Linked DNA regions of Homo sapiens: regions 1 and 3 are each linked to region 2. The links come from fine-mapping of genetic effects on gene expression. A gene starts in region 2. Each other region holds a variant in brackets. All regions are shown on one strand. Distances are from middle to middle. Region 1 holds the start of LOC124904007 (a long non-coding RNA gene). Region 2 holds the start of VAT1 (vesicle amine transport 1). Region 3 overlaps RAB5C (RAB5C, member RAS oncogene family).

Region 1 (11,051 bases), 360 kb before region 2:
TTAGATGGAGTCTCACTCTGTCGCCCAGGCTGGAGTGTAGTAGCGCAATCTTGGCTCACTGCAACCTCGGACTCCCAGGTTCAAGAGATTCTCCTGCATCAGCCTCCCAAGTAGCTGGGACTACAGGCACGTGCCACCACGCCCGGCTAATTTTTGTATTTTTAATAGAGACGGGGTTTCTCCGTGTTATCCAGAATGGTCTCGATCTCCTGACCTCGTGATCCACCTGCCTCGGCCTCCTAAAGTGCTGGGATTACAGGCGTGAGTCACCGCGCCCGGCACGCCCGGCTAATTTTTTTGTATTTTTAGTAGAGATGGGGTTTCACCGTGTTCCCCAGGCTGGTCTCGAGCTCCTGAGTCGAGACGGGATTTCTCCGTGTTTGCCAGAATGGTCTTGATCTCCTGACCTTGTGATCCACCCGCCTCGGCCTCCCAAAGTGTTAGGATTACTGGCGTGAGCCACTGCGCCCGGCAGATTTTTCTTTTAAAACGTGGAGAATAAGAAATCAGCCCGAGTGTGTAATGGCGTCAATATTGGTGTGGACAAGACAAAGTGAATGAGGCAAGGAGCGAGGCTGGGGCTCTCACCGCGTCTTGAATGTAGATGAGAGTGGGACGGTGATGGCAGGGAGGAAGGCGACGACATCTCTTCTCGTCCTTTTGGCTAAGATCAAGTGTAGTATCTGTTCTTATCAGTTTAATATCTGATACGTCCTCTATCAGAGAACAATTATATTAGATAGATTTTTGGAGCAGGGAGATGAAATAGGAGCTTGCTCTGTCCACTCCACGCGTCGACCTGGTATTGCAGTACCTCCAGGAATGGGGCTCCCTCTCCTGGGATACAACCTGTTTGCAAGGTTAGAAAGAAAAGACTGCGCCGGGTAGTTTAGGATAGTTGGTAGGTTTTCTTACTCCTTTAAGTATCATAAGGTTCATGATTTATGGAGAGTATCCTAGGACCCAAAACAAGAATATTCATTTCCAAGTAGGGAACATGTTCGACTTTACTTGGAGGGCTTTAAATCTCAGCTTGGCTGTGGAGGGGTGATGACCTTTCAAAGGGATGGATTCCAGTGGTGTGTTGCCCAGGCTGGACTTCAACTTACTCTGTTTGTTTGTTTGTTTTTTGTTTTTGAGATGGAGTTTAGCTCTTGGTACCCAGGCTGGAGTGCAACGGCACCATCTCGGCTCACTGCAACCTCTGCCTCCCGAGTTCAGGCAATGCTCCTGCCTCAGCCTCCCGAGTATCTGGGATTACAGGCACCCGCCACCATGCCCAGCTAATTTTTGTATTTTTAGTAGAAACGGGGTTTCACCATGTTGACCAGGCTGGTCTCGAACTCCTGACCTCAGGTGATCCACCTGCCTGGGCCTCCCAGATTGCTGGGATTACAGGTGTGAGCCACTACGCCCAGCTGAACTTCCTCTTCAGCCCATGGAGTAGTTCTACTTTAAGGCAGGCACCAATGTACTGGCTACAAACTTCCTTTTTTCCCCAGGAAAAATCGAGGCACAGGTAGTTTAAGTTACCGAGGAATGCACAGGAGCAGAACTCGAGTCCAAGCATCGTGGCTCCACCCTTCATGCTTGATGCTTTTTTAGGCTCTGTTCTAGGTATGTGTATCCTTTACGGGATCAGCCACCGGCAGTTGCCTTGCAACCATGATGACAAATCTCTCCCAGCTTTTTTGGGTCTCATCCCTGTATCTATAAATTGCATCCCAGCATAAAGATCAGAATGTGTCTTTTGCTGACCCAATCTCTCACCCTTTCCAAACTCCAGAAATCTTGTCTGGCCTTGGCAAAACTACCCGCTGCTTCTTTCTCTAAAGGATATCTTCAGTCCGGGCACTGTGGCTCATGCCTGTAATCCCAGCACTTTGGGAGGCCCAGGTGGGAGGATGGCTTGAGCCCAGGAGGCCACAGTGAGGTGAGATCACGCCATTACACTCCAGCCTAGGCGGCAAAGCCAGAGCCCCATCTCGAAACAAACGAACGAACAAACAAAGCACAAAAGAAACAGCCTAGGCAAGGTAGTGAAGCCCTGTTCAGGGTGACGAATATCTGTACAACAGCTATTTCAGAGGCTGAGGCAGGAGGATCAGTTGAGTCTGGGAGGTGGATGCTCCAGTGAGCCGTGATTGCACCACTGCACTCCAGCCTTGGTGACAGAGCCAGACCCTGTCTCAAATAAATAAAAATTAAAATTAAAGGAAAGAAAGCGTGGAAGCAGAAGTGGGTCCCATTGAACTTCAAGCCTTCAAGCTACAGCTGTGGCTGGACAGGTTGAACTAGCAGGCAGGAGCAGTCACCATCTTGGCAGGGATTAATGGCCCTGAACCATCATCAGGAAGAGGGAGTAGTGCTCTTATGCAGGGAGGGCAGGTGGAATATATGTGAACTCTGGTGATCTGTTTGGGTGCCACGTGTTACTCCCAGGTCCACCTGTGACATGAATGGACAAGTGCAGGAACCCTGACTTGAGAAAGATGTGGCCTTGAGGGGTTTAGACTTTTCAGGAATGAGAGTTTGGGTCACGGTAGCCAGGGAAACCACCAGGATTAACAGAGTTGATAGCTGAGAAGGAGGGGGGATTTGGAGGGGAGAGGACAGGAGGCACTGGTTGAGTACCAGGGGCAGCCTTGTGACCAAATGCACCAAGAGGGGCTGTCGTTTGACTCACTAACTTTCTGTAGCTCTATGCAGTACAAAAGAGCAGGAGATGAAAGAATGGCAAGTAGATTGGGAGCCGGAAAATAACTGGAATGAACCCACACATTCCTGATTGACATTGACAGTAATATACAGGTACAGGCAGGCAGAGGCGTTTTCTCTTCAACTGATTTTGAAATCATTCTCTCTGTTAGAGTACACAGCTATCTGAAGGTACACAGTGACCATCAACATTTACCAAGCTTTGGGCAAATGTTAAGTGTCATTGTTGTTGGTTTAATTTGATATTGTTCTCTATTGAATAATGTGCACAACAAATTTCTGGATTTTTATTAAAAGAGCATCTCCTGTGCTACATGCAAATATACAATCTGAGAAATTCTGACCCTGGCTATTAAAGTATAAAAAGGTTTCCTTGTCTCAGAACAATGTTAGAACAGACATCAACTCACTGCTTCTAGAAGAGCAGCCACTCCTTGATTTCACAAACTCAATAAACAGTCTCAGTTGTTGTTTAGTATCATTAGGAACTATTTTGACAGAGGTTTCTAGATCATGTCACAATGACATCAGATATCAAAGAAATGTGTAACAGGTTTGGTTATATGCAATGGCTACCCTCAACCCCCCAAGTTCCTGTCCAGTCAAATTCCCTCTGACCTGCTGTCTGCATCTGCCTCTCCAGAAACAGGGCAGACACAGGATTGTCAAACGTGCTTGCTTCCATGCTCTCTCCCTAATGGTGACATGGACTCTGTTCTCAATAAGCACCTCCCACCCCGCCCAAAGGTCCCTATCACCTCTCCCTGGCTCTGGGTCCACTTCTCTGTACCTTGGACATGGGCATAACATGTTGCCCATGAGGCACAGGATGAGTAGCAGGGGCAGCCCTGTGACCAGCTGCAGCAAGAGGGAGTGCTGTTTGGCTCACGACCCTTATGCAGCTCTATGCAGTACAAAAGAGCAGGGGAGAGAAGAATGGCAAGTGGAAGGGGAGGCAGAAAATAACCAGAACAAATGCACATATATGATCGTGGCCTTGGGTTTTCATTTCCTTGTGAGGGCTCCCGTGTCATGTAAAACTTACATTGACAGCTTTTATGATAGCTTTCCTCCTGCTAATCTATGTCAGTTTGAGTCTCAGGCCCAGCAAGGACCCTAAGGAGATAAAGTTTTGCCTCCCCTACACAGTCATTGCCCACTCCCACCCTCATCTTGAGTTAACCACTGATCTACTTTATGTCTAGAGTTCCCGTTCCTGGCATTTCATATGAAAGGAATTACACAGTATGTGGTCTTTTGTGTCTGACTGATGTCTTTCTCTGAGCATAATGTTTCTGAGGTTCATCCCCATTGTGACATGTGCCATTATGTTGTACCATTATGTTTTTATTCCTGAATATCACATTTTGTTTATCCGTTCACCCACTGATGGACGTTTGAGTAGTTTTCAGTTCAAAGCTATTCGAATAATTCTGCTCTAAACATTTGCCTCTAAGTCTTTATAAGGACATACGTTGTCATTTCTCTCGGCCTGCCTGCTCATTACACATTGGTGTTCCTGTGATTCTGAAACATGTACTCTTCTCTTACACAAAGTAGTATCTCCGTGTCATCTCTCCCAGTCCATGGCTACTGGGGACCACCTGTATACCTCACCCTGATCATAGAAACAGAAGTCCAGTCTCTCTATGTTTTCAAAGGCCTCCAAGATTTTCAACTCTTTCTCTCTTTCTCTTTCTTTTTCTCTTTTTCTTTTTCTTTCTTTTTTTCTTTCTTTCTCTCTCTCCCTCTCTCTCTCTCTCCCTCTCTCTCTCTCTCTCTCTCTCCCTCTCTCTCTCTTTCTTTTTTTTTTCAAGTCTCGCTCTGTGGCCCGTGGTGGAGGGCAGTGGCATGACCATGGCTCACAACCTCGACCTCCCCAGCTCAAGTGACCCTCCACCTCAGCCTCCTGAGTAGCTGGGACTACAGGAGCATGCCACCATGCCTAGTTTCATATGTGCTTGCTTCCATCCTCTGCCCCTAATGGTGCCACGTACTCTGTTCTCAGTAAGCACCCCTGGCCCATGGGTCTTTAGACTTAGCCTTGCTCACACGGATTTGCCATCTCCCTTCAGGCCTTTCTGCCTCAACTTGCTGATTCTGTATTTTATAACCCCAGAAAGTGTTCTAAGACCCACTCAGCCACCAGCGTAGACATCTGGAGTTATAACTGTATCACTTGTTATCCAAATCCATGTGGTCCCCAAGTTTCAGATATTGGTAGTGAGAATTGAGGTCTCAAAAAACATATTTGCTTCTTCTCTCTCCCTCA[G/C]CCTCCCTCCTTCAGTCATCAAGTCCCAGAGCAGAATGCTTCCCAAACTCTGATGTGCATGTGCATTCTGGGGGAACCTTGTTAACATGCAGGTTCTGACGCAATAGGTCTGGAGCCAGTGATTCTGCACTTCTAACCCACCCCCAGATGATATCAATGGTGCTGGTTTGGGGACCACACTGTGAGCAGCAAGACTGTAGCAAGATGCTCCATTTCTACTAAATATCTTTTTTTTAAAGGGGCATATGGGCTTGGCGCAATGGCTCATGCCTGCAATCCCAGCACTTTGGGAGGCCGAGGGGGGAGGATCGCTTGAGGAGGAGTTTGAGACCACCCATGGCAACATAGGTAGACCTCATCTCTACCAAAAAAAAAAAAAAAATTAACAAAAATTAGCCAGGTGGCTGGGCGTGGTGGCTCACACTTGTAATCCCAGAATTTTGGAAGGCCAAGGCAGGTGGATCACTTGAGGTCAGGAGTTCAAGACTAGCCTGGCCAACATGGTGAAACCCTGTCTCTACTAAAAACACAAAAATTACCTGGACACGCACACCTGTAGTGCCAGCTACTTGGGAGGTTGAGGCAAGAGAATCGCTTGAACCCGAGAGGCAGAGGTTGCAGTGAGCTGAGATTGTGTCACTGCACTCCAGCCTGGGTGACAGAGCAAGACTTCGTCTCAAAAAAAATTAGCCAGTTGTGGTGATGCGCGCCTGTGGTCCCAGCTACTTGGGAGGATGAGGCAGGAGGATTGCTTGAGCCTGGGAGGTCAAGGCTGCAGTGAGCCGTGATCTCTTCACTGCATTCCAGCCAGGATGGCAAAGTGAGACTGTGTATCAAAAAAACAAAAAAACAGCCAGGTGCAGTGGCTCATGCCTGTAATCCCAGCACTTTGGGAGGCCGAGGCAGGCAGATCACATGAGGTCGGGAGTTCGAGACCAGCCTGACCAACATGGAGAAACCTCGTCTCTACTAAAAATACAAAATTAGCCAGGCGTGGTGGCACATGCCTGTAATCCCAGCTACTAGGGAGGCTGAGGCAGGAGAATCGCTTGAACTCAGGAGGCGAAGGTTGTGGTGAGCCGAGATCATGCCATTGCACTCCAGCCTGGGGAACAAGAGCGAAATTCCGCCCCCCCCCAAAAAAAAAACAGAAACAAAAAAAGGAGCCATATGGAACACTAACTTTGCTGGCTGCTGCAGCCAAACAATCTCCCTTCCCCCACCAAGGCCACACAGATTGGCACAGTTCTGTTTCTGTTGCTATAAGTGAAAGTTTTTGGTTGGTAACTGTGAAGAGGCCCAGGCGGGAGAGAAAAGAATGGTGGGGCTGGGCAGGGGGCAGGGGTGGTGGAAGGAGTCAGAGAGGAGGCAAAGGAAAATAGGGAAACAAATGGTATCTCTCTCCAAGCAGATCTCTTCAACTACCTGTGAAAACTGATGTGATGAAAAGGGGAATTTGAAGGAGCCATTCCAGAAGACAGGGCGAAAACTGAAGTGCAATCAGGGCCAAGAAAAACAGAAATAGCAGGACCTGGAGTTGCATAGGTTGAATAGTTGAATAGGCTGCTCTCCTCAGCTGGCAGGAAACCTGGCAGCCTCCTGGTGCCCAAGGACTGAAAACCTTAGAAGCACCTGGAGTTGGCAGCCTTGGCATGGTCAGGTTGGCACCTCTGGAGGTGCCCAGGCTTCCCTGGCAGCATTGTGAGCAGTGGATGGTGTTGAAGGGCAGCCAGAGGAGGAATGGAACACATGCTCCTTGCTAACCACACGGACAAGGCCACGTTCACAGGTACACAAAGGTAGGTATACAAAGGTAGGTACACAATCAATCAAAAGTTTAAAAAACAGCCATGATACCAGAAGGCTCTTTTGTTTAAAAGAAAGTTTCAGAAATAGACCTAAGTATATATGAGGCCTTTATTATATGATAAAAGTGGCATCTCAGACTGATGAAAAGGTGGGCTGCTCCATATATGATGCTGAGGCAACTGGTTAGCCATCTTAAAAAAACAAAAGTTGGATGTGTAACTGAAATCATAGACTAGAACAAGTAGGTTAGGGATGCAAATACAAAGGATCAACAATTCAAAAAGGCCAATGGGGAAAGGATCTGAGCAGTCAGCTCATAGAAAAGAAAATAGAAGATCTTAAGCATGCAAAAAGGTACACCCCCTTACTGGTGTAAGAGATTCCACCACTTTTTTTTCTTTTTCTTTTTCTTTTTTGAGACAGAGTCTGGCTGTCACCCAGGCTGGAATGCAATGGCATGATCCCAGCTCACTGTAACCTCTGCCTACTGGACTCAAGTTATCCTCCCACCTCAGCCTCACAAGTAGCTGGGATGACAAGCCTGAACCACCATGCCCAGCTAGTTTTTGTATTTTTTGTAGAGACAGGGTTTTGCCAATGTTGCCCAGGCTGATCTCGAACTTCTGTGCTCAAGTGATCTGCCTGTCTCAGCCTCCCATGTGAGCCATGGCGCCAGGCTGGAGGGCAATGGCAAGATCTCGGCTCACCACAACCTCTGCCCCCCAGGTGTTAGAAACAAGTGTTCAGTGCTGCAAAGAAAAACCACCACTTAAACAAAGAATTTCTCAGCAAGGCACATTTACTTCTGCAGAAGGGTACAGCTTGCGTCTGACTGATCCCAAGAGCACATCAAGCCGGGTAGAGCAGGGGTTTTTATCCCTAACACAGTTTCTGTTTCTGTGTCCTTTCCCCATTTGCTGGAGTTGGACAGCACAGTCTAAGCTGACCCAATTGACTAGTGCTTGAAATTGAATAAGGCCAATTAGGCAGGAAGGGAGAGGCTGTCCATTACCAACTAGGCGGGAAGGGTTGTTTACCAAGTAAGAGGTTTGCTAGTTACCCATTAAACAGAGAAACAAGTGCTCCTTCCTGATTAAGCAGGAAGGGCTGCGTATAGAGCAAGAAAGACCAAGGAAACTTTGAAGAGGAACTTACTGTTTCTGGCAATTTTCCCCCTCCTGACTTTATAGTTCTTCCTCTTCAAATTCCTCTAATATATTTTGGCTTTGTTGCTCCTCTTGGTTTCTAGAAGTAGGAGTTTATCTGAGTAGGGTGGGGGAGAATGGAGAGGGGTTTGGTAAGAGCTGTTTCTATAAGCCTTTGCACAAATCCACAAATGCAAGGTATGACACAACCTACAAGAATGAGTACACTGGTAATAATTGCAAGGGAGGTAAAGATTGAGGTCATGAGTCCCTTCCATTTCCAAACCATTTTTCCATGAGACCAGAGAAGGGGTGTTCAAGCGATTCTCCTGCCTCAGCCTCCCTAGTAGCTGGGATTATAGGCATGCGCCACCACACCTGGCTAATTTTGTATTTTTAGTAGAGACGGGGTTTCTCCATGTTGGTGTCAGGCTGGTCTCGAACTCCCGATCTCAGGTGATCCACCTGCCTCGGCCTCCCAAAGTGCTGGGATTACAGGCATGAGTCATCTGCCCAACTTGCTAAAAGATCTAATCCCAGCTACTCGGGGGGCTGAGGCAGGAGACTACCCCGAACCTTGGAGGTGGAGGTTGCAGTGCGCCAAGATTGTGCCATTGCACTCCAGCACTCTAGCCTTGGCAACAGAGCGAGTCTCCGTTTAAAAAAAATAATAATAATAATTAAAAAAAAATTTTTTTTTTTGGTAGAAACTGGGTCTTGCTCTGTTGCCTAAGCTGCTTAACCTCCATCTCAAGGTTTCCTTCTGTAGGTAACCTTTGCGAGTTTGTAATGACGAGAGCACTTAGCACACAGCCTAGGCCAAACAGTAAATGCTTCCTATTGTATTGTCCGCAGGCAACGCAGTTGCTCAGGTGCTTCGGTATCACAGCCAAGACCCCTTCGGGGGAAGCTAGTCGGATACTGGGACCCACATTCCAGACTACTGAGCCGCGGTCGCGCCCTCGGCTCCGTTTCTGCTCCCTCCACCCCACGAGGTAGGCAGTGGTGTTTCCACTTCCCAGCTGGGGAAACTGAGAGTCCGAAGGTTAAGTAGTTTGTCCCCAGTCCCCACTGACAGGGCAGGGAGAGGGGCGGGGCTGTGACTCCCAGGGCGGCAGCCCCCTCAGGGCGCGATCTCGCAGTCGCAGTCGGACTTCTCTCTGCGGCCCCGGGAAGTCCCCCCCCAGTGGGGGAGAGGGGGCTCATGGGCTCCGCTTTCGCCTCCGACCCAGCCAGACCGCTGAAGCTCCGCTCTTCACAGTAATGGCTTTCCTCAAAAGAGCTCGGACCACTCTCCTCCAACTTCCTTCCGCAGACACCTCGTGACGCCCACGCCCATTTCGCTTGGTCACTGTCTTGACCCCGGGTGGGTCCATCAGCTCATTGTAAATTAATTTTTGTATTTTTAGTAGAGACAGTGTTTCACCATGTTGGCCAGGCTGGCCTAGAACTCCTGTCCTCAGGTGATCCGCCCTCCTTGGCTTCCCAAAGTGGACAAGGACAGCAGCTCTTTTTGAAAGGAGATACAGGCCGGGTGCGGTGGCTCACGCCTGTAATCCCAGCACCTTGGGAGGCTGAAGCAGGTGGATCACCTGAGGTCAGGAGTTTGAGACCAGCCTGACCAAAATGGAGAAACCCTGTCTCTACTAAAAATACAAAATTAGCCAGGCGTGGTGGCACATGCCTGTAATCCCAGCTACTCAGGAGGCTGAGGCAGGAGAATCGCTTGAACTCAGGAGGCAGAGGTTGCGGTGAGCTGAGATCGCGCCATTGCACTCCAGCCTGGGCAACGAGAGTGAAACTCTGTCTCAAAAAAATAAAATAAAATAAAATAAAACAGAAAGAAAGAAAGGAGATACAGTATGCCCCATGAGATGCTGAAAGGGACTCACCTCTTTTGAAATTAACCTAAGCATTTAAAGCCGTGGCTCTGTTTGAAATGGAATGATTAGGAGAAAATGCATTCTTGAAGAAATAGACAGCAGTGCCGGCCAAATAAATGCTGTATGTGGAATGGACTGGGAGAAGGCCATGTCCATCTTGATGTGAGGACTTTTAATGCCTTGATCGTACTTGCCTGTATTATTCTATGTTGTCAACGTGTCCTCTAATACCAGGTCCTCCATGATAAGTTGCTCCCGATCCAGAAGTATTGCCCCAGCTGCAAAGAGCCCTGATTCTCAAATGTGGTCGTGATCATGGTTACTGATTGGTCCATAACAAGAAAGTTAAAAAAAAAAAAAAAAAAAAAAAGACATTGTCAGACTCTTTATTCTATTTGCTGAAGTGGCCTTCTTTTTATAGGACGGGGGTGGAAGGCCACCTTCGATGGGTGCATCCTCCACGATGACCTGCTAACAAAGGTGCATGGATTTCAGAGTCTGATTGGCCTACAACAGCATTTGGCTTGTGGAGACAGTGGTTCCCTGATGAAAAACTGCCATGATGTAAGGAAGAGCCTGTCAGAGCGAGGCTGGGGTGCTGCGTGTTGGGGAGGTGGAGGTGTGGCTTCCCGGGAGAAGCTCCACCCGCTGGCTGAGTCTGGCACATAAACCAGTCTGTGAGGGGATGGATGTGGGTGTAATGGGGGCAATTACAGTAGGAAGGAGCCCACGTGGAGCCTGCATTCTCTGGGACAGGGCATTACTGCATTCTCTGGGACAGGCTAAGGCCCAGATCCTACCTTCCCAGGTGGCTGGATGGGTCATAGATGTATGAACCGGTCCCCTCATTTTCTGATTGCCCTGTGCTTAACGTTTCTGTACCTTTACTGAGGCTCTTTCCTCCAACTCCAGTGCCCAGACCCCCCTTCTCCTGAACATGAATGCCTGTCCATGGAAATTCGAGTCTCTCTCTCTCACCCAGGCTGGAGTGCAGTGATGCAATCTCAACTCACTGCAACCTCTGCCTCCCAGGTTCAAGTGATTCTTGTGCCTCAGCCTCTGGAGTATCTAGGATCACAGGTGCGTGCCACCATGTCTGGCTAATGTTTTGTATTTATAGTAGAGATGGGTTTCGACATATTGGCCAGGCTGGTCTTGATCTCCTGGCCTCAAAGTGATCTACCCACCTGGGCCTCCCAAATTGCTGGGATTACAGTTGTGAGC
Region 2 (10,993 bases):
GCTGCCTATGGCCACGGCCAAGGGAGGCCACTGTAGCCACATGGAAGACATCCCTGACGCTGCGCTCAGAGGACCGGGAGGAGCACTCAACATAGGACACAGCCCCCACCTGCTTGGCCAGCACAGTGCCCTGGAAAAGGAAGGAGTGCATGGGAGAAAGTTATAGGTCTTAGCCTGCAGCTTAGAAAGGGGCATGGAGGCTGTGGGCTGGGGTTGAATGTCAAGGCTGGGGGCAGTCAAGGGATCAGGTCAGAGGTCACAGACCAGAACAAAGGATGAGCCAGGTAAGGTGTTTTCAAATCAGAGACTGAAGGGGCAGAGGTGACAGGTCTAGGCTGGGATGAGGTCAGACGTCAAGGGTCCCACCTGCTCATGTGTAACAGGGATAAGCCTCTGCTTGGACAGCTCCCTCAGTGTGGCCAGGTCAGTCCGCATGTCCAGTTTACAGCCAACCAGCACAACCTTGGCATTGGGGCAGAACTCTTGAGTCTCTCCTTGCCACTATGTAGGAGAAGAAAAGAGAATTGTGGAGGGGTGGAGGGAGGCACAGCGTGAGCCTTTGTGCCATGCCAGCAGTGTGCCCTCTCTTCCTCAAGCACGCAGAAACCATGTATCCCTCAGGACTCTCCCACATGAGGAAGGAGGTGAGAATGCTAGGCTTGGTTTGAGAGCAGGATGGGGTGAGAGAGAAGCAGCGGGGAGGAGAGGGCTGGCGTGGGCCTGTGGACTCTTCTCCCTCAGTGGCTATGAAGGGTCTGCCAGCCTGGAAACTTCCCATTCCCACTCGCCTTTCCCATACTCTCTCCTGGGAACAAATTTATCCCACCCTCCCCTCCCCCACCTGGGAACTGGGGCTGCCCTAGCTGACTTCTGTCCATTCACCCCTGGCTTTTGTCATGGAAACTGGGGCCTGGAGAGGAGGCCACAGGGCTTTCCTGAGCTCCAGGATCAGGCTTCCCATCCCATCCCCTCCATCTGGGACTCCCACTGCCAAGGAGTTGGAAGAGCAGAGAAGGAATCCTGTGAGTGCTTCTCCCTTCACTCCCCCACCTCCCCTAGCTGCTGTATCCAGCTCTGAGGACTTTCAGGAAAGGGGTGGCTGGGAGGGATGGGGGCTGGAGGCAGGGGTGGCAGGGATGAGAGCTTCACTCGCTAACCAGCTGATGGCCATACCCCAGCCATCACTCCCTCCTCCTGGCCCATGTTATGTCAGGACCATGGTGGTCTGGTCCCCCTCAGTCTAGCTGCCCTATTTCCCCAGGCTCCCACCTTCTTGAGAACACTGTCCAGTGTTTCTGGTCGGCTAATGTCGAAGCAGATGAGCACAGCATCAGAATCAGGATAGGCCAGAGGCCGGACATTATCATAGTAAGAGGAACCTGAAGGAAGACAGGGCATGAGGGGCCTGAGTGGATGGGAGGCCTGGAAGGGAATGGGAGACCTTACAGATCCTGGTCAAGGGATGCTGGGAGCAGAGAATGGAAAAGAGCAACCATTAATACCCATCATTAATACCCATCATGGAGTCTGGGTTTCCCAAGTGGGGGAGCGGGCAGAAGGGAGGTCACATGGTGGGAAACGGCTCTCTGCTTCCCTAGTGGTTTAAAAAGTAATAATTTTTATTCTTGACTGAGGTTTGGACCCCTTTGAGAAGCTCATAAAATCTATAGACATTCTCATAAAATGTTGCATGTGCTTTCTGGGCTTTGGCAGTCTAAAGCCCTGAAGGGAACTCTTGTAAAAATAAAAACCCTCCTTATGTTGGGAGGAGGAAAAGAGCAGTGGCAGGGAGAGCACTCTCCCATTCTCCTGGGACTTGACCTCAGATTTATCTAGTTCAATGGAGAGAAACAGCCTCCTGACCACCCCTCACTCAAGACATTCTAAATGTCTTTTCTGCTTTTTTATTTTTTGAGATGGAGTCTCGCTCTATCGCTCAGGCTGGAGTGCAGCGGCATGATCTCGGCTCACTGCAGCCTCCGCCTCCCAGGTTCCAGCGATTCTCTTGCCTCAGCCTCCTGGTAGCTGAGATTACAGGCACGTGCCACACGCCCGATTAATTTTTGTATTTTTAGTAGAGACGGAGTTTCAACCATGTTGGCCAGGCTGGTCTCAAACTCCTGACCTCAGGTGATCCCCCCACCCCAGCCTCCCAAAGTGCTAGGATTACAGGCGTGAGCCACCGTGCCTGGCCTCTAAATGTCTTTTCTAAACCCAGTCTTATCTCTGAAGGAACATGTTCCAAATTAAAAGCCATTCCTTCCCAACTTTCCCAGGTAGGCAGGACCCAGCTGAGGGGCTCAGATCCTAGGCTTTCTCCTTCAGGACATGGTTTCTGTCAGGCTCTGCAAGTTCTACCTCAGTTTCCCTGGATTTTAGCAGAATATTGATTTTTCCCTTCCTGTTGGAATTGGATGGATGGGCTGGGCTTACCTGGAACCTAAGGGTCTAACCAAGGGAGGGGACAGAGTGGGCCGCCTTGGAAGTCAGGGTGACCCCCAGGGACTTGGCTACCTGAAGTGTCCCACATGTTGAGCTCAATGCGGCGCTTGTCGATCTCAAAGCTCGCAGTGTAGTTCTCAAACACGGTGGGGACATAACTCTGCAGACACGGATGGATCCAGATGAGATCATCTCTCCAAGTCCTCACCCCAGATAAATGCCCTCCTCACTCCCACACCCCGTCCAGCCCAGCCCCTGGACACAAGTTGGTCTGGGATTGGGCAAAGGGGAGATCCCGGGAGCTCCTGCCCCCCCCCCCCCCCCCCCGGAGAATCTCTGCTAAGCTCCCAGACCTCCTCCTGTTCCCTTCTGGTCCCTTCAGCCCCCTAGTTCTTCCCCTCTCCATTGCCCAGGACCTCCGACATTCCCCTCGCCCTCCCTCCCGGATGCTCTGGTTCTCCCAAACCCCATCTATCTCACCCTGCTCCCTAATTCCTCCCACCCCAATCCTCTGCAGTCCTTCCTGAGCCCTCAAGGCCTCCCCGCGTCCTCCGACCCCCTGTCTCTTGTCCCTGGTTACCCGAGTACCCATTCCCATCCGTCGCCAGGGCCCCTGTCACCCACCCCCCAGCAGCCTTAGCGTCCCCCTCCCAAGACGCAGGTCCCTCACCCCGGGATAGGCGTCCTTGGCGAACACCTGCAGCAGCGCCGTCTTGCCGCACTCTGCGTCTCCCACCACCACGATCTTGCAGCGGCCGCTCTGCCCCTCCATGGTCCCGGCTACGCGCCGGTCCCCCACGCCACCCCTCTCCCGGGCCCCGCCGCCGCCTCCCCCGCCCCTGCAACTGCAGCCGCTCGGGCCGCCAACACCGGCATCTCGCGGGCCCGCGCCGAGCCCCCGCCCCGGGTCCGCGGCCCCCCCTCCGCCCCGCCCCCAGCCAGGCGGCCGCGCCCCCCCGGCCCCTCCTCCCACCCCCGCAGCCGGGGGGCGGGGCCCAGAAGATCTGGGCGGAGCCCTGGGAACAGAGGCCTCAGAGCCGGGGTCCAGCCCGCCGGTGTGGTCTGAGGGGCCCCTGCCGGTTTGGGACAGGCCGAACTGGGCTTATTTGACTTTCTCGGATATAAGGGCAGGTCAGAGTTCAAGCGAAGTTCTTAGGGGTAGAATATGAGCGGCACAAGCGCGAAGCTCGGGCCTGCTGTGTACCCACGCGTGCACGCAGGTGTACCAGTGCGGACAAGAGCTGGGGCAGCCATCCACTTCCTGAACACGGCGGGAGAGAGATGCTAAGGGGAAGGAGGGAGCCTCTTTGGTTTTCTCTCCCGCGTCCGCCTATGTCCTGGCAGGGGGTCTTGGGGAAATGGGAGGGTGAACCCCAGCACACCCACCCGGACGGTGGTGACATCATAGCTTTCCGTCCCCATGGCAACGGGCAGCCGGGTCTCCGGTTACATTGACTTAACCGCCGGCCTAGACTAGCAGAGAAGCGTGGACTGAGTTCCTCCAGCCAAGCACTGGGTGGAAAGTTTTGGGGGAGCTGCGTCCTCTGGTGGATGCTTGGGGACAAGGAGATAAGGAAGAGAAAGAACCAACCGCCAGAGTTGCTCTGCTGGAGCCAGAGCTAAACCCAAAAGTCAGGCTTGATTAAGAGTCTGACAATAGGCCGGGCGCGGTGGCTCACGCCTGTAATACCAGCACTTTGGGAGGCCGAGGCGGGCGGATCAAGAGGTCAGGAGATCGAGACTATCATCCTGGCTAACACGGTGAAACCCGCACGGTGGGCGCCTGTAATCCCAGCTACTCAGGAGGCTGAGGCAGGAGAATGGCGTGAACCCGGGAGGCGGAGCTTGCAGTGAGCCGAGATTGCCTCACTGCACTCCAGCTTGTGCAATAGAGTTTCGAAAAAAAAAAAGTGCTTTTTTATATCGAGGCAATTCGAGTCAATAATATATGCTGCAAATAATTCTGTAAAGATAACTAGAAGCTGGGCGCGGTGGCTCACGCCTGTAAACTCAGCACTTTGGGAGGCCAAGGCTTGCTTGCGTGCAGGAGTTTGAGGCCATCCTGGGCAACATTAGCGAGACCCTCTCTCTAGAAAAAAAAATCAAAACTTAGCTAGGTTTGGCCACTCTAGGCACGCTGCCTATGGGGTAGCCCTGCTCTGCAAAGAGCAGTAAAACATAAAGTTAGCCGGGCGTGGTGACACATGCCTGTGGTCCCAGCTATTCAGGAGGCTGAGGTGGGAGGATTGCTTGAAGCCGGGAGTTTGAGGCTGTAGGGAGCTGTGATCGCCCCACCTCGCTCAGCCTGGGTGACAGAGTGAGACCCTGTATCAAAAAAATAAAAATATAAATATAACTAGAGCACGCAGCATCATCACTATGTTACAGAAGGGAAAATGAGGAACAGAACGTTAACACCAAAGTCAGAAAGTTTTAAAGGCTTGGTCTCCATGCTTCTACTTTGCCACTGCAAGACCACAGTGAATTAAGTCTCATCCCTGCCTGGGTTAGATGTCAGAGCCTGAGACACAATGTAGTTGGACTCCAGTCCACAGGTGGCTGACTCCAAATCTGATATGAGTTAACTCCAAATCTGATGTAAGTTCAAGTTTTGGGACTGTTCCTTAACTTTTTTTTTTTTTTTTTGAGACGGAGTCTCGCTCTGTAGCCCAGGCTGGAGTGCAGTGGCGCGATCTCGACTCACTGCAAGCTCTGCCTCCTGGGTTCATGCCATTCTCCTGCCTCAGCCTCCCAGGTAGCTGGGACTACAGGCGCCTGCCACCACGCCTGGCTAATTTTTTGTATTTTTTAGTAGAGACGGGGTTTCACCGTGTTAGCCAGGTGAATCTCCTGACCTCGTAATCTGCCCGCCTCGGCCTCCCAAAGTGCTGGGATTACAGGCGTGAGACACCGCGCCCGGCCTTTTTTTTTTTCGAGATGGAGTCTCCCTCTGTAGCCCAGGCTGGAGTGCAGCGGCATGATCTTGGCTAACTGCAACCTCCGCCTCCTGGGTTCAAGCAATTCTCCAGCCTCCGCCTCCCTAGTAGCTGGGACTATAGGCACCTGCCACCATGCCTGGCTAATTTTTGTAGTTTTAGTAGAGCTGGGGTTTCACCATACTGGTCAGGCTGGTCTCGAATTCCTGACCTCAGGTGATCCACCCACCCGCCTCGGCCTCCCAAAGTGTTGGGATTACAGGCGTGAGCCACGCCGCCCGGCCCTTTTTTTTTTTTTTTTTAACAGGGTCTCACTCTGTTGCCCAGACTGGAGTGTAGTGGCGCGATCTCGGCTCACCTCCGCCTCCCAGGCTCAAGCGATTCCTCTGCCTCAGCCTCCCAAGTAGCTGAGATTACAGGCGCGCGCCACTACCGCCCGGCTAACTTTTTTATTTTTAGTAAAGACGGGGGTTTCACCATGTTGGCCAGGCTGGTCTTGAACTCCTGACCTCAAATGATCCACCAGCCTCGGCCTCCCAAAGTGCTGGGATTACAGGCGTGAGCCACCGCGCCAGGCCTATCCCTTAAAATAGTTTTTAATTTGAATAAGGTTTACTATGAATAAATAAATCACAGTCGGCTTGATCCCAAGAGCACAGACGTTCCTGGTGCCCCTTTTCGTGCTCTCCCAGCTTGCGCCACTATGGCCCTGGCCCTTTAAGGCTGAGCGCGAGGCCCCGCCTCGCCCGGCGCCCCGCCCCTCCCGCTGGATCCCGCAGCCGCGGCTCTTCCCGACGCGTTCCGCCTTCCCCAGCTGTGCACTCTCCATCCAGCTGTGCGCTCTCGTCGGGAGTCCCAGCCATGTCCGACGAGAGAGAGGTAGCCGAGGCAGCGACCGGGGAAGACGCCTCTTCGCCGCCTCCGAAAACCGAGGCAGCGAGCGACCCCCAGCATCCCGCGGCCTCCGAAGGGGCCGCCGCCGCCGCCGCCTCGCCGCCACTGCTGCGCTGCCTAGTGCTCACCGGCTTTGGAGGCTACGACAAGGTGAAGCTGCAGAGCCGGCCGGCAGCGCCCCCGGCCCCTGGGCCCGGCCAGCTGACGCTGCGTCTGCGGGCCTGCGGGCTCAACTTCGCAGACCTCATGGCTAGGCAGGGGCTGTACGACCGTCTCCCGCCTCTGCCTGTCACTCCGGGCATGGAGGGCGCGGGTGTTGTGATCGCAGTGGGCGAGGGAGTCAGCGACCGCAAGGTGAGCGGGTTGCGTAGGGCAGGGCAGGGCTGCGCAGGCCACTGGGCAGTGGGGCACGAGTGGGCGAGCGCCGGGGGTGTGGCAGGGCGGGAGAAACTGGCGCGGACCTGGGTGCACGAGCGTGGAAAGCGTAGCCAAGGAACTTGTGTTTGGGGGCTCCTGGAGAGCGGCATTTATGTGGGGAGGGGAGACGAAATTATCGCCCCTTCCCCAACCATTTTTAGTTGTGGCCGCCGCCCAGAAGCTGTGCTGGTGGGGGGGAAAACAATAAGGTGCCCATGCGCATGCGCACAACCACACTACCGTCCCCACCCCCCCCCCCCCCCCCCATTAAAACCACACCTGTACCCCTACCCACCAAACACTCTCTGGGTAATTGTGGTCTGTGACTATGAGTGACGGTTAGTGCCCCCTTTCCCCGAGGGAGCTTGAGGGGCTATGTCGTCGGGGTTGGGCGGGGGCACAGCGGCCGTGCCAGAGTCCTGGTCACATGCAGCCCCGTGGTCTGTGGGGGTGTGAGGCGGCCCCTCCCAAAGCAAGGCCAAAGAGACGAGACACGCCCATCACGGAGGAGAGAGAGCCTTTGCTACCCCACCGCCACCAGCCTTACACCGCCGATCTGATTTTGGGGTGGGGGAGGCGGGATTGGGTCATCCGATCTTTGTCTTGGGCTCTGTGTCTCCCGTGACTGCAGTATCTCCTCCTCCTGTGACTCAGCCCTCAGCCTTCGGGCCACGACCCGGGGCTGCCCTTGGGAATGCCTGGGGCGGGGAGTGGAAGGGGGGACCCACCTCTGCCTTCCTCCTGCAGAGGACCCCCACTTCAGAAACCCCAGTGCCAGGGGTTTGGACTGGAACGGAGAGGTGCGGCGCCTTGAACTGGTTGGCCAAGTCTGCAGGCCTGTTTCTCCTTCTCATTTATCATTAATCTTGGCCACAACCCTGGACACCAGAGAGCTCAAAATGATCAGCTTTTTGAGAGACCTGGGATGAGGCCTCAGCACGCCATTTGTTTAGAGGTTTCTTTTTTTTTTCTTTTTCTTTTTTTTTTTTTTTTTTTTTAGACGGAGTTTCGCTCTTGTTGCCCAGGCTGGAGTGCAATGGCGCGATCTCGGCTCACCGCAACCTCTGCCTCCCGGGTTCAAGCGATTCTCCTGCCTCAGCCTCTCGAGTAGCTGGGATTACAGGCATGCGCCACCATGCCTGGCTAATTTTGTATTTTAGTAGAGATGGGTTTCTCCATGTCGGTCAGTCTGGTCTCGAACTCCCGACCTCAGGTGATCTGCCCACCTCGGCCTCCCTAAGTGCTGGGGTTACAGACATAAGCCACTGCGCTTGGCCAGGAGTTTCCTTTTTAAATCAGACCCCTCAATGAGAGGCCCCACAGATGCAGCCTCTTGCAGACCTGCCAGCCCAATTCTGGAGCCAGGTTTGTTGGATTCATCCTGTATGCAAACAGCTTCTCCTTAAGGCTTTCCTCTGAATTCAGCTCTGGCCCCACCCTCAAACTGACTTCTAAATGATCCCACTCTTGAGCAGGCGTCTAAGAGGAATATTTTCGGGAGGTAGTTGTAGTTCATGTTACTGCTGAAGGCCACCCACCTCACCTCCCCTCCATACACTTTCCGCCTGGTAAATACAGGATATCCTGTCCAGGGCAAGAATCTGATGTAAGAGCCTGGATTCTGCGGGGAGGGCCCTTCCCTCTCTCTCCCTCCTCCTCCTTCCTGGTGTCTGGGTTGGGGAGGGGTCATGGCCCTGATTTGGATGGCCTGAGGGTTAGCATGAGCCAGGGTAAGTGAGACTTGTTCTGGGTCAAATCTGGGACTGGCCATGACCCTAAATGACCAATGCACTCCTCGCAGCTCTCCTGGGTTGTTCTGTATCTGCTAGTCCTGAGTCCCTGGGTGGAGGGCTTCCGTTCTTGTTCTCCAGACCTCATCTCAGGCCAGAACTTGGAAGGAAAGACCCCAGCATGCCCTCAGTTCTCGTATTCAGTGGAGTGTGGGGGCTTGAGGACATGAAAAAGGGCGTAAGTGGCAGTCCCATCCCCCTTCCCCATGGACCCTAACTCTTGTTAATATACAGAATTCCCATCATTCCTGGCAGGGATCAAGACAGACCCAGATTGTCCCAGAACAGCACCCACACCTCCCTCTTCATGCTCTTCAGAGAGCGCAGAGAAGTCTTTTCTCCTGACGCTCCCTCCTTTTCCCTGCCCTTCCCTTGACCCCACTTGCTAAGCTGGAGAGAAAGGTTCTGTTATCTTTGTCCCCTTTCCCTCCTGCACAGAGGCTCTCGTGGGGGTGGGGGGGAAGCCTTTTACTGCTGCGTAGGCCTCTGTAGCCCTTCTTGTCTGTTGCCCCTCCTGCACCATCTCTGAGTGAAGATGTTTTCTGGGCTCCCAGTGCTGGCTCAAACACACTTCTCCCGAGGTGACCACACCCTGCTGTAAGCGCTCAGAGAACTTTGCCTGCACTTTGGTATGGCCCTGACCACACAGTGCCGTCTTCTTTTGGTTGTGTGACTTCCTTGCTGCTATTATATTATTATTATTATTATTGTTAGCTAACATTATTAAGTGCTTATTATGTGCCAGACATTGTGCTAAAATTTTTTTTTTCCATTTGGAAAAACTGCCCTAATTGACAGATAAGAAAACTGGAGCTGGAAAAGTGGAGCTCAAAAAGATTAAGTAATTTTTATGCATCCGAAGTCACACAGTCAGTAAACAGTTGAGACCGCTTTTGTAACCACAGCAGTTTGATCTTTTCCACAATACTTCATGCTGCCCTAACTGTAAGCTTCTTGCATTCAGGGATCTTACACAATAGTGACATGTAAGATCTGTAAGAAGATGATAAGGATAGTATCTGCCTCAAAGAACTGATGTAAGGGTTAATTAAGCATTATATATAAAGCACTTGAAATCGGGCTCGGCCCTCAGTCAGCACTCAGTAAAGGTGAGTTGTTATTGTTGTTGATGATGATGTTATTATTATTATTATTACCATGACTATTGCTGCTTCTCCTGCTACTTCATTTGGAAGAAGGTAGCCTTGTACCTAGGGGGAAATCAGTAAATAGCCTGTGGGTGAATGAATGAGTGACTGAATGATACTCTTCTGTTCTTCAAGGCAGGAGACCGGGTGATGGTGTTGAACCGGTCAGGGATGTGGCAGGAAGAGGTGACTGTGCCCTCGGTCCAGACCTTCCTGATTCCTGAGGCCATGACCTTTGAGGAAGCTGCTGCCTTGCTCGTCAATTACATTACAGCCTACATGGTCCTCTTTGACTTCGGCAACCTACAGCCTGGCCACAGCGTCTTGGTACACATGGCTGCAGGTGACAGGTCCCCTCACTTTATCACCCCTTACCCCACCCAGATTTCCTTCCAGGCCCCTTCCCTGCAGCCTGTCTGGGTTGTTGTCATGGCAACACCAGGCTGCCTTGGCCTGTGGCTCCCAGAGGCCTCTGCTGTGTAGTTGCCGTGGTAACATTCAGGCACCAGGTCTAGTCTGGTGTGCTATCCTTAGCAACGTGCCCTCACCCCACACCCCCACCTCTCTAGCTACCTTCCCCACCACTTCTCAGTCATGGAAATTAGACACGGCCCTAAAATGAGCGTAGGCAAAATGAAGGTGACAGGCTGAGTCCCTGGGAGGCTAGAATGGAGTGGTTGGTGGCCAGGGCAACTCCATATCCCCTGCTTATGGGTGTCTTGCTGCAGGGGGTGTGGGTATGGCTGCCGTGCAGCTGTGCCGTACAGTGGAGAATGTGACAGTGTTCGGAACGGCCTCGGCCAGCAAGCACGAGGCACTGAAGGAGAATGGGGTCACACATCCCATCGACTATCACACGACTGACTACGTGGATGAGATCAAGAAGATTTCCCCTAAAGGTGGGGGGCATAATATGGGAGGGGGTAGGGAGGCACAGGACAGGGAGGGGAGCTCCAGATCTGTGGATCCTAATGTTGTTCTTGGGTTCCCCTACTCTATGACAGGAGTGGACATTGTCATGGACCCTCTGGGTGGGTCAGATACTGCCAAGGGCTACAACCTCCTGAAACCCATGGGCAAAGTCGTCACCTATGGTGAGTTAGTGGGCCAGGGATGGAGAGAGCATGTGAGGGCAGGAGGGAGGGTCTAAGGGGTGGGATATAGAGGCCAGGGCTTTTGAATGAAGAAGGGGTAGGGACTCAGGTGCTCTGTAGACGATCAGGGTTAGGAATGGTCCTGTATGCTGCATTCAGATTGCTGACTCTTGGGTACCAGCTCTTTTCATTCTCTGTCACAACTTTTCATATGAGTGATAGTAAATTCTACATTCTTTTTTTTTTTTTTTTTTTTTTGAGATGGAGTTTCG
Region 3 (9,956 bases), 890 kb after region 2:
AAGCTGAGGCATTAGAATCGCTTGAGCCTGGGTGGCAGAGGTTGCAGTAAGCAGAGATCGTGCCACTGCACTCCAGCCTGGGTGAGAGAGCGAGATTCTGTCTCAAAAAAAAAAAAAAAAAACTTAAGAAAAAAAAAGAATTTGAGACCCACTGACCTGTAGTGTCCAGAGCAGAGGGAACCCCGGAGCAGGGAAGAACAGTGTCCCATTTTTCTTTCTCTTTCTCTTCCATCCTTGGCCCAGAAGTGCCTGTGCACAGGGCCAGGGTGTTTAGGAGCTTAGATCCCTTCTGCGCTTTCATGTGCATTGTATTAATAGGAAAATAGTGTGACTCCAAGTCCTTATACATTCTCTCCCCTTTCCTGTGGAAGACATGAGGTTGGGACTGGTGCTTGTTCTTAGTGGCCTCTGAACAAGCCAGGGTTCTGATTTGGATGGTGGGTCCATGGCAAGGAGAATCTTTCTCCCTAGATCTGAAGCTCCAGCACGGCCATTGTACTTGTGAAAAAAAGTCAACTTTTTTTTGAGACAGAGTCTTACTCTTTTGCCCCAAGCTGGAGTGCAATGGCGCGATCTCAGCTCACTGCAATCTCTGCTTCCTGGGTTCAGGCAATTCTTGTGCCTCAGCCTCCCAAGTAGCTGGGATTACAGGCGTGTACCACCACGTTGGCTAATTTAAAAAAATCAACTTTGACTGTAACTTTAGCTCTTATGGAGAATTTGATTTTTGTCTCAAAGAAGACTTTGAAAACTATGTCAGTTTTGGCTATAATTCCATCACCTGACTGCACAAGTGGATAATTTTTGCCAGGGGTTCAAAAAGAAAGATTGCCAGTAAGACACACATCCCTGGGAGGCAGGACAGCTCAGTGAATGCATTCACCTTTACTACCTGCCATGTCTTCAGTTTCCCAGGCTTGGGAGGAGAGGGTATAATGCTTCCTGGGGCTCTCGGTCTGGCCTTCCCCTGGCTTAGACACCCTCATATCTCCGTGCGCCCTTCCTAGCAAAATTGGCTTCCTTGGGCTTTATTGACTGCAAAGGTTGGACACCACTGCTCATTTGATCACCAAGCAGGGCCAGGCAAACCACTAGGCAACAGACCGTAAAAAGTGCTGGGTGTGCCTGCTCAGGTATCTCTGGAAGGCAGGATCAGTGACCAGGCAGAACATGTCACCAGCTAGTTCATGCCAGGGAGAGCCTGTCTCAGTTCATTGGGATGGCCAGAGTCTGTTCACCAACAGTCTTGGAGAAAGTGTTACAAATAACCCTGTCAGTACTCTTAGCTACTGTTTACTCAACATGATGTGTGTGAGACAGCTGGCAAACACTGCCATTAACCCTGGTGTGCCCCATATTAGTGATGAGAACACTGAGGCTCAGCTCAGGTGGCTTCTACAAAGTGATTCAGAAGTGGCAGGAGACAGTCACATCTGTGGTGCCGAAAGCCAGTGCCTGTGCTCACTCTCTCTCTGCCAGATGCTCTAGCCCTGGCTGTGCTTCAGTGGGTGTGCTTCACCTGCAGATGCTGGGCTCTGTGCCAAACCTTCATGAGAATCTCGAGGGGCTGGCTGCACAGATGACTTCAATGTACAGACACCGTTGAGAACCACTGCAGGAGAGTTATTTGTCTCCCCTTCTGGCTTGTTTTTAAAAATCACATTCTGTTCCTCTAACCCTGTGGTTTGGTAGTGACAAGACTTAGATCTGTTACCTGTATTTTTCTCGACCTGTAGGTGCTGGTTACTTCCCAGCTCGGTACCCTAAGCACCAGCTGCTTTGGTTTTTTTGGAATCAGAGACTTGGTTTTCTATTACCATCTCCCAGTCCATTCATACCTCCTCCTCCAGTGCCCCAGCCACAGACCATTGCTCAGCCAAGACTCTGTGTCACGTGGATTCATGGTAATAACCAACTTGTAATTCCACTGTGGTTTTCCCTCTGTTGCTGTCGCCCTGCCTGGCTCTGGGCGGCTCCTCCCACTGTTGAGGGCACTCAGAAACTGCAAGATTACTGTGACTGTTGCTAGAGCCAGCTAGAGCTAGACCTTCCTGGACCAGCAAAGTTGCTGCCACAAAAAAAGAGAGTTTCATTCACCTAGCAGCCCTAAACCAAACATAGGGCAGGCACTGCCTCCATTGTTCTTCCACAGCAGGGAGGATGGCATCATGTCTATGGTGGGTCTGGGGGGTTCTGTCACCTGTAGGCTGGGTGACCATGAGCAGGACATTTAATATATGAATGTTAAATTATCTATCTGAAAAATGGAGGTTGTCGTAAAGCTTGAAGGAGATAATAGTTGTGCAATTGGGAAGCTGAGGCGGGAGGGTTGCTTGAGGCCAGGAGTTGGAGACCAGCCTGGGCAACACAGTGAGACTCCATCTCTGCAAAAAAAAAAGAAAGAAAGAAAGAAAGAAAATTTTAATTAGCTGGGTGTGGTGGTGTATACCTGCTGGAGGCTGAGGCAGTAGGATCTTGGAAGCTGCAGTGAGCTGTGATCACACCGCTGCACTCTAGCCTGGGCAACACAGTGAGACCTTGTTTCTTTAAAAAAAAAAATTATTTCCTTCCATCAGCACTCTTTGAGTTCCTAGTATGCACATAGGCACTGTGAGGAAGGCATCTCTAAGAAGCAGAAAGCACAGACCTTGTCTCTTCATTGACTGAGGTGAAATGAGAAAGCGTCTTAAACTATGAAAAATTGAAATGACATAACTTTGAAATATTTACATGGTATTTCTGGTTGCTAATTGAGACCCACCACCCCGTACTTCCTTCCTTGTACTTTTGGGGAAGAGGTGGGCCCCATTTCAAACCTCTTTTCCTTTGGTTCTCTCCAGAAAGGAAACTGTTGTTTCTGGCTAGTGAATCATTCTTCCTGAAGCTCACTTTTTAAATGAGTTGCTGGGAGAACTTGGATGTGGAAAACGATTTGAGGTTGAACAAAACAAGCCCTTTGCTGTCAGCTTCTTGCATGAATGTGGACCATTTGCTTCCCACAGATACCTCCTGTTCATCCACATTGCTGTCCCTTAACCATGAGGGAATGTACTTCCCTTGCTCAGGGGCAGATCGGGGCTCTCCCTGGGATCTTAGACTCCATTATGCAAAGGGCAGCCTAATAAAAACCTTTTCTTTCCAACCCAGGTTCAAATGCTGAACAGTGTTCAGTACTTAATACCTACTCACAGGACCTGTTTGTAAAACATTCTGTATATATTCTGATGTCTGTTGACATCAGATGTATATGTCTGATGAGACATCCACTTATGTCTTCTAGAGGCTTCTAGAGATAGGCTCCTCATGTGTCTGCAATTCCAAAACTTAACAAAAACAAAAAGTTGAGCCTCTGAAGCTGTCACTAACCAAGTGATTCAGATGTCGGGACTGGAACACCAGCTGTTGGGGATGCAGGACTTGGTCTCTGCCCTCCCACACCTCCTGCCTCTTCTTTCTCTCCATCGCCCCATCTCTGCCAGTAGAGAATGGAACTGAGGTCTCTATTGAAAAAGGGAAAGTTGGTAGCTGTGCTGACTGTGGCAGAGCTATGACTTTGGTGTGTGTTTCTGTGTGTGTTTGTTTCGGTGTGTGTTTTGTTTTGGTGTCTGTTTTGGTGTGTATTTCTGTGTGTGTGTTGGCATGTGTTTTTGTGTGTGTGTGTGTGTGTTTCAGTGTGTATTTGTTCCGGTGTGTGTGTTTCTGTGTGTGTTTGTGTGTGTGTATCGGTGTGTGTTTTACTATGTGTTTGTTTCTGTGTGTGTTTTGTTTTTTAATGGGTGCGAGACTTTGGCCCATCAAAAATGAGAGAACTAGGGAAGAAGGATCAGGATGAGAGAGTGAAACATTGCTTTGATTCTGGTGCACAGAGGCACACAGTCCAGCCCTAGACTGAAAGTCGGTCAGTCCTTCTGAAGGTGGCAGGAGAAAAATGGCTATGTTAATAACAACTTGTGCTGGCCAGGCCCTGGTCCCTGAATGGCCATGAGGTTGGCCAAGCACCTTCTCTGAGGAGCTTTCTACCAGGACCTCTTGGGCCCCTGTCTGCCTCACCACTGTGGTCCTGGCTACCAGACTGGAACTTCATTATTGATCTAAATCCTAGTGTCTTCCTGAGCTTTTGTTTTGTTTTGTTTTGTTTTAATTTTGCCCCAAAAGCCTGTTGACTTAACTGTCACCAGGCTGTCACACATTCATTCATCGCCTGTGTGTGTTTATTTGTAGGTGAATGTACATATTTGGGATCCAGAAGTCAATGTGTTTGCTCAGAACCATGAGCCTGAAGTTGGGAGACCATTCTCCTCTTTACAGCTCAGATGGTGGTAGAGCCGGTAGACATCTAGTATAGCCCAGTGGGGCCTCCTGACCTCTAGTGGGGAGGGCAGGGAGGTGAGGTGAGGGGAAGCAGTCAGCTAGGTCTTCAGTGAGGCCAGAGGGAAAGATCTGTAATTTAAGAAGGACACAGCGGGTGACGGCCTCTGAACTAACTCAGTACTTCTCATTTCTCCCTTACAGTTGGAGGTCCCCCTCCCCACTAAGTGCCTCTTTGCATAGCACCAGTCCCCACCCGCACGCTCTCTGGACCACTACAGCTGGACGGGCAATGGCGGGTCGGGGAGGCGCAGCACGACCCAATGGACCAGCTGCTGGGAACAAGATCTGTCAATTTAAGCTGGTTCTGCTGGGGGAGTCTGCGGTAGGCAAATCCAGCCTCGTCCTCCGCTTTGTCAAGGGACAGTTTCACGAGTACCAGGAGAGCACAATTGGAGGTGAGTGGGCATGAGGGAGTCGGGGAGGGGCCTGAAGGTTGCCAAAGAAATGCTTTGACCTTGAGGAGATGGGAAGCTGCCTGCCTGCATTAGGGACTAAATGCGTCTGTGGTGGCAGCCCCACTTCCTCACCTGGGCCCTGGAATTGAGCCCAGCAACTGGTCTCCATGCCAGAGTCCCCTCAAGCATCGCTAGTAAGCATTTGCTGGGAGTGGAAAGCTAGCTTCCCATCCTGTTTCTGCCCCTTCTTGATCTGTGTGGCCTTGGCTGAGGCCCTTTCACTGCCCTGGCCTCATGGAGGGAGAGCTGACTCTGGATCTTTGAGGCCCCTTCTTACTATAATGGGTGGTCCATGTGCCCTGGCCTTTCCCACTTCCAGAAGAAGGAACAGCCTGGTGAGTCGGAGCTGGGTGATAGGTGGGTGTTTCTGAAGCTGACTTTACCCTTTCTGGAGCTCACAGCCTGTTGTTGATTTTCCAGTGGTCAGCATTTAGGATGTGAGTGAGGGTCTGGCCTCGGCCTCTTGCCTCCGTGGCTAACACACACATCAAGAGGCAGGGGCCAACGCTGGCCTTGGCCTTGAGTCATCCTTTCTCTACTCTCTTGGTAGGAGGTTTCTAGGCAGCTGGAAACAAAATGGGCCATGTCAGCAGTCTCCCTGCTGCCTCCTCAGCATTTGGGTCAGGAGCTGGAGAGGGGAAGTGAGGCAGTGCCCCATGTCCCTCAGTGAGCTGGGGGAGGGCAGACCAGGAAAGCAGCCTTCTACACATGGCTGTCCTGGGTTCTCTGCTGGGTCCAGGGGCAAAGGGGCCTTTTGCTGTCTGTCCCAGCTCTGGACTCCT[CCTT/T]TGAAGCATGTGTACAGGCACCCTGCATTCCCCTAAGGAGTCACCTCTTAGTGACTGAAGGTCAGGTCACAGGGTGGCCATACAGGAACAGGTCTGGGTCAGAGCTAGGGGCGGTGGCTAGCTGGAGTGCCTGGAGGTGGTAGGGGTGGTTGGGAAGCCGGCCACCCAGCCTCAGCCTGGTGGTGGAACAGTGTGTACTTCCCCAGCATAGCTAAGTGTGTGAGAATGTCCTTAGGAAACCCAAGGTCAGTGACACCCCTGGGCTGGAGCAAACTGAGGGGTGGAGCGGTCCCTAGCTGCTGGTCTGTTCTCTGAGTGGCGGAGGAGGAGGTCTGAGGGCGCTCACCCTTCTGTGCTTGGAGTAGGCTTCCCCTAGGCTTTCCCTCTCTTGCCCCTGCTGTGTTGCTCTTCAGAGAGTGGTCCTGAGATGGCTCAGTGCATGCAGGAGTCCCTTCTCCTGCCGTTGCCTGGGCTGGGTCTGCAAAGCCTGTGCAGACCCCGTCCCCCAGACACATACATAAAAATCCAAACTCCACCCCCCACTCAGGCCTGCTTTGGCTCCTGGCTTGAGGGTTCTCTGTGCCCATCTCAGTGGTGGGCTTCTGAGTGCCAGAGCCTAGAAGCAACAGTGGGATTGTGTGGGGTGGATTCCAACTCGCTCTTGCCCATGGACGCTCCTTCTCTCTTACAGCGGCCTTCCTCACACAGACTGTCTGCCTGGATGACACAACAGTCAAGTTTGAGATCTGGGACACAGCTGGACAGGAGCGGTATCACAGCCTGGCCCCCATGTACTATCGGGGGGCCCAGGCTGCCATCGTGGTCTATGACATCACCAACACAGTAAAGATTTCCCCTTGCTTCTTCCTTTGCCCTTCATCTTCTCAAAGTCCCAGGGATTGGGTTATCAGAGCCCTGATTTCAGGCCGCTTAACCCTCTGTTCCTGGGTGGGGGGTGGGCAGATTTCCTGTTTGGGGACATTGCATCAGAATCTTTAGGTGGCAATGTCTTAGATAATTTGGCTGTGCCAGCTTGAGAGTCTCTAATGGGTGGCCCTGGGCAGAATGCCTTCTCTGTCCCTTCGACATTCTGTCCCTGTCTCCTCAGGATACATTTGCACGGGCCAAGAACTGGGTGAAGGAGCTACAGAGGCAGGCCAGCCCCAACATCGTCATTGCACTCGCGGGTAACAAGGCAGACCTGGCCAGCAAGAGAGCCGTGGAATTCCAGGTGGGGAGATGACAGACTTGGGGGAAGGAGTGGAGTAAGCAGCTCCCCCCGGCCTCGCCTGGGATGCTCAGGGGCTTTGGGAAGGGCCATGCTAGGAGGCAACAGGGAAGCTTCCATCTGCTGTCCTCTCGTGCCTCAGGCATGGGCCTAACATGGCTCCTGTCTGTAATCCCAGTGCCTTGGGAGGCTGGAGTGGGAGGATCACTTGAGGCCAGGAGTTCGAGACCAGCCTAGGCGACACAGTAAGACTCTGTCTCTGCAAAAGATTTAAAAATTAGCTGGGCTTGGTGGCACGCACCTGTAGTCTCAGCTGCTCAGGAGGCTGAGGCACGAGGATTGTTTGAGCCCAGGAGTTTAAGATTGCAGTGATTGCAACACTGCACTCCAGCCTGAGCAAGAGTGAGGCCCCATCTCTTTAAAAAAAAAAAAAAAACAGCCAGGTGTGGTGGCACACACCTGTAATCCCAATACTCTGCAGGCTGAGGCGGGAGATCACTTGAGCTTAGGAGTTCGAGACCAGCATGGGCAATGTGGCGAAACCCCATGTCTAAAAAAATACAAAAGTTAGCTGGGCATGGTGGTGTGCTACTCAGGAGGCCGAGGTGGGGAGGATCATTAGAGGCCAGGAGATTGAGGCTGCAGTGAGCAGTGATCGTGCCACTGCACTCCAGCCTGGGCAACACAGTGAGATCCTGTCTCAAAAAAAAAAAAAAGAAAAGAATAAAAAAAGCATGGGCCTAAAAGGAATTGCCCGTCACCTGTCTCTCCCTGGTTCTCTTTCTTTGGTGGTAGGGGTATGTGTATATATGGATCACTAGCCTTCTACTTCTCTTTTCTTGTAAGTTGACTTTTTAATTAAACTTATTGAGAAAGAAATACTTAAGTCTCTGCTAACCCTAGAAACTCAACTTCTCTTCTTCTAATTTCCCCAGTTTCTTGTCCTTCCAGAAATATGCACGTGTTTTTTAATCCCTTTCTTTACATTGATGGCAGTGTGCTATACATACTGTATATGATAATTTTTTACCAATCCCTAATAATAGCAAAAGACTGAAAACAGTGCTGCAGTAGACATCCACATACTTTTGTGCTTTTGTGCAAACATGTAAGTGTATTTGTAGGTTAACTTTCTAGAAGTATTTCCTAGCCTAGTGATTTTGAAGAGCAAGAAGGCAGGGTGGACCTGGGGAAACCCGGGTAAGACATCTGCTAGTGATTGTGAGCTGAGAGGTGATATACATGAGCGGGGAAACCCAGATCAGGGCAGCCTTAGGCCTGAAAACTCCTGTGTGTGTCCAGCTGATCTCTATTATGATAAGGTGCTCGAATAAGGAAGGTTTGTATCCTGGGCCCTGGGCCCTGGCCCCTGCCAACATTTCCCTCTCACCTCCTCTCACCTCCATCCAAACCAGGAAGCACAAGCCTATGCAGACGACAACAGTTTGCTGTTCATGGAGACATCAGCAAAGACTGCAATGAACGTGAACGAAATCTTCATGGCAATAGGTCAGTTGCTTCTCCTCCCCTCCTCTCTCCACCACAGCAAGGGCATATCACCTGTCTGCTGGTCTAGAGTGGGCCTGCGGGGTCCCTTCACCACTCTTTTTTTTTTTTTTTTTTTTTTTTTTTGAGATGGAGTCTCGCTCTATCACCCAGGCTGGAGTTCAGTGGCACGATCTCGACTCACTGCAAGCTCCGCCCCCCAGGTTCACGCCATTCTCCTGCCTCAGCCTCTCGAGCAGCTGGGACTACTGGTGCCCACCACCACTCCCAGCTAATTTTTTGTATTTTTGGTAGAGACGGGGTTTCACGGTGTTAGCCAGGATGGTCTCGATCTCCTGACCTCGTGATCCACCCGCCTCGGCCTCCCAAAGTGCTGGGATTACGAGCGTAAGCCACTGCGCCCAGCCCCCTTCACCACTTTTAACCTTCTGATAAAATTGTTTTCATCATCACCTGACTCCCAGATGTAGATGTTGGTTGTTCACCCGAGAAGTTCCTGAAGCCTGGGCCAGAGTCTCAACATTTCACTCTCTGAGCCTGTAGCCTGCCACCCATTTCAGAGCCTGCCATCACTACCCCTACCCACTGCCTAGGAGTTTTTAGCTCATTTGGCTCTGGAATCTTCCTTCCTGGGTTGCAGATCCTGGCTCTACCACTCATTAGCTCTGTAGTCTTGGGCAAGTTATTTAACCTTACTTTGCCGCAGTTTCCTGAAAACAATCAGAATGCACCTGACACACAGAAGCCCTCAATATGTGAGTTACCACTGATTGGGTATAAAGGCCAGAATCTGCTCCAGTGGAACTGGGAGAGTTATTGGGGTACCCCCAACAAATGCACTTTTCCCCCTCCCAAACAGCTAAGAAGCTTCCCAAGAACGAGCCCCAGAATGCAACTGGTGCTCCAGGCCGAAACCGAGGTGTGGACCTCCAGGAGAACAACCCAGCCAGCCGGAGCCAGTGCTGCAGCAACTGAGCCCCCCTTGCCTGCCCGCTGCCCCCGCCTCCTCCGCCTGAATGACCCGACTGGAATCCACTCTAACCAATCGCACTTAACGACTCGGGCCACCACTGGGGGGGCAGGGGGAGGGGTCCACCATGATTTCTCCATATAATTTTGATCATAGGCCGGAGTGAGTCATTCCACCTGCACCTTTCTGTACAAATACTAATTCAATTTTAAGTCTTAAGTCACTTTTTTAATATATATGATCTTCTGCTCTTCCCACTTCCTCCCCTTTCTACTGCTCTCCCATTTTCCCTTGCTGGGAGTAGCCACATGCTCTTGCCCCCCAACCCTTGTATATGGGGACAGTGGGGTCAGTGCAGCTACCCTTTCTTTCCCTCCTGCGGAACAGCGGACCCAGCAAGAGCATCCACATCCTCACTTTGTTCGGAGTGGTCTTTGGTTTGGGCGGTGGGGCAGACCTTGGGAAGGGGCTTAGGAAGGGAGAGGCAGCTCTTCCTTCAGCTGGCTCTCATCAGGCTGCAGCCCCCTCCCCGCTCCCACCTCCCTGCTGGGAAACCACAGCATTATCACAGCATTATTGTGACAGCCACGAACCCATTGCCCACAACCCCTCCACCCTCGGTCACCCCAACCTCTGGCTCT

What was found.
Region 1: its variant is fine-mapped to the expression of VAT1 in whole blood (INTERVAL, PIP above 0.99).
Region 3: its variant is fine-mapped to the expression of VAT1 in whole blood (TOPMed, PIP above 0.99).

What each region holds. Positions count from the first base shown.
Region 1 is chr17:43,377,011-43,388,061 of GRCh38, reverse strand. It overlaps LINC00910 (long intergenic non-protein coding RNA 910), which reads left to right. Exons shown (of 6, transcript NR_027412.1): 2 at 6,402-6,789; 3 at 8,800-8,939; 4 at 10,249-10,391. LOC124904007 (a long non-coding RNA gene) reads right to left here and starts at 8,312. Exons shown (of 2, transcript XR_007065762.1): 1 at 7,955-8,312; 2 at 6,894-6,990. It also overlaps the pseudogene RNU2-4P. RefSeq lists enhancers at 82-597, 598-1,113. The variant G/C (reference allele first, on the strand shown) is at 4,991.
Region 2 is chr17:43,017,569-43,028,561 of GRCh38, reverse strand. VAT1 (vesicle amine transport 1) reads left to right here and starts at 6,177. Exons shown (of 6, transcript NM_006373.4): 1 at 6,177-6,626; 2 at 9,763-9,970; 3 at 10,356-10,526; 4 at 10,632-10,721. The coding sequence starts at 6,240. RND2 (Rho family GTPase 2) reads right to left here and starts at 3,331. Exons shown (of 5, transcript NM_005440.5): 1 at 3,113-3,331; 2 at 2,515-2,602; 3 at 1,270-1,379; 4 at 367-501; 5 at 1-130. The coding sequence starts at 3,214. RefSeq lists a silencer at 3,368-3,507.
Region 3 is chr17:42,125,147-42,135,102 of GRCh38, reverse strand. It overlaps RAB5C (RAB5C, member RAS oncogene family), which reads left to right. Exons shown (of 6, transcript NM_004583.4): 2 at 4,513-4,766; 3 at 6,303-6,454; 4 at 6,720-6,842; 5 at 8,255-8,348; 6 at 9,205-9,956. The coding sequence starts at 4,601. The coding sequence ends at 9,320. Among named protein-coding and RNA genes, the nearest start is that of HSPB9, 7.3 kb to the right of the region's middle. RefSeq lists enhancers at 1,181-1,230, 1,801-1,850. The variant CCTT/T (reference allele first, on the strand shown) is at 5,609.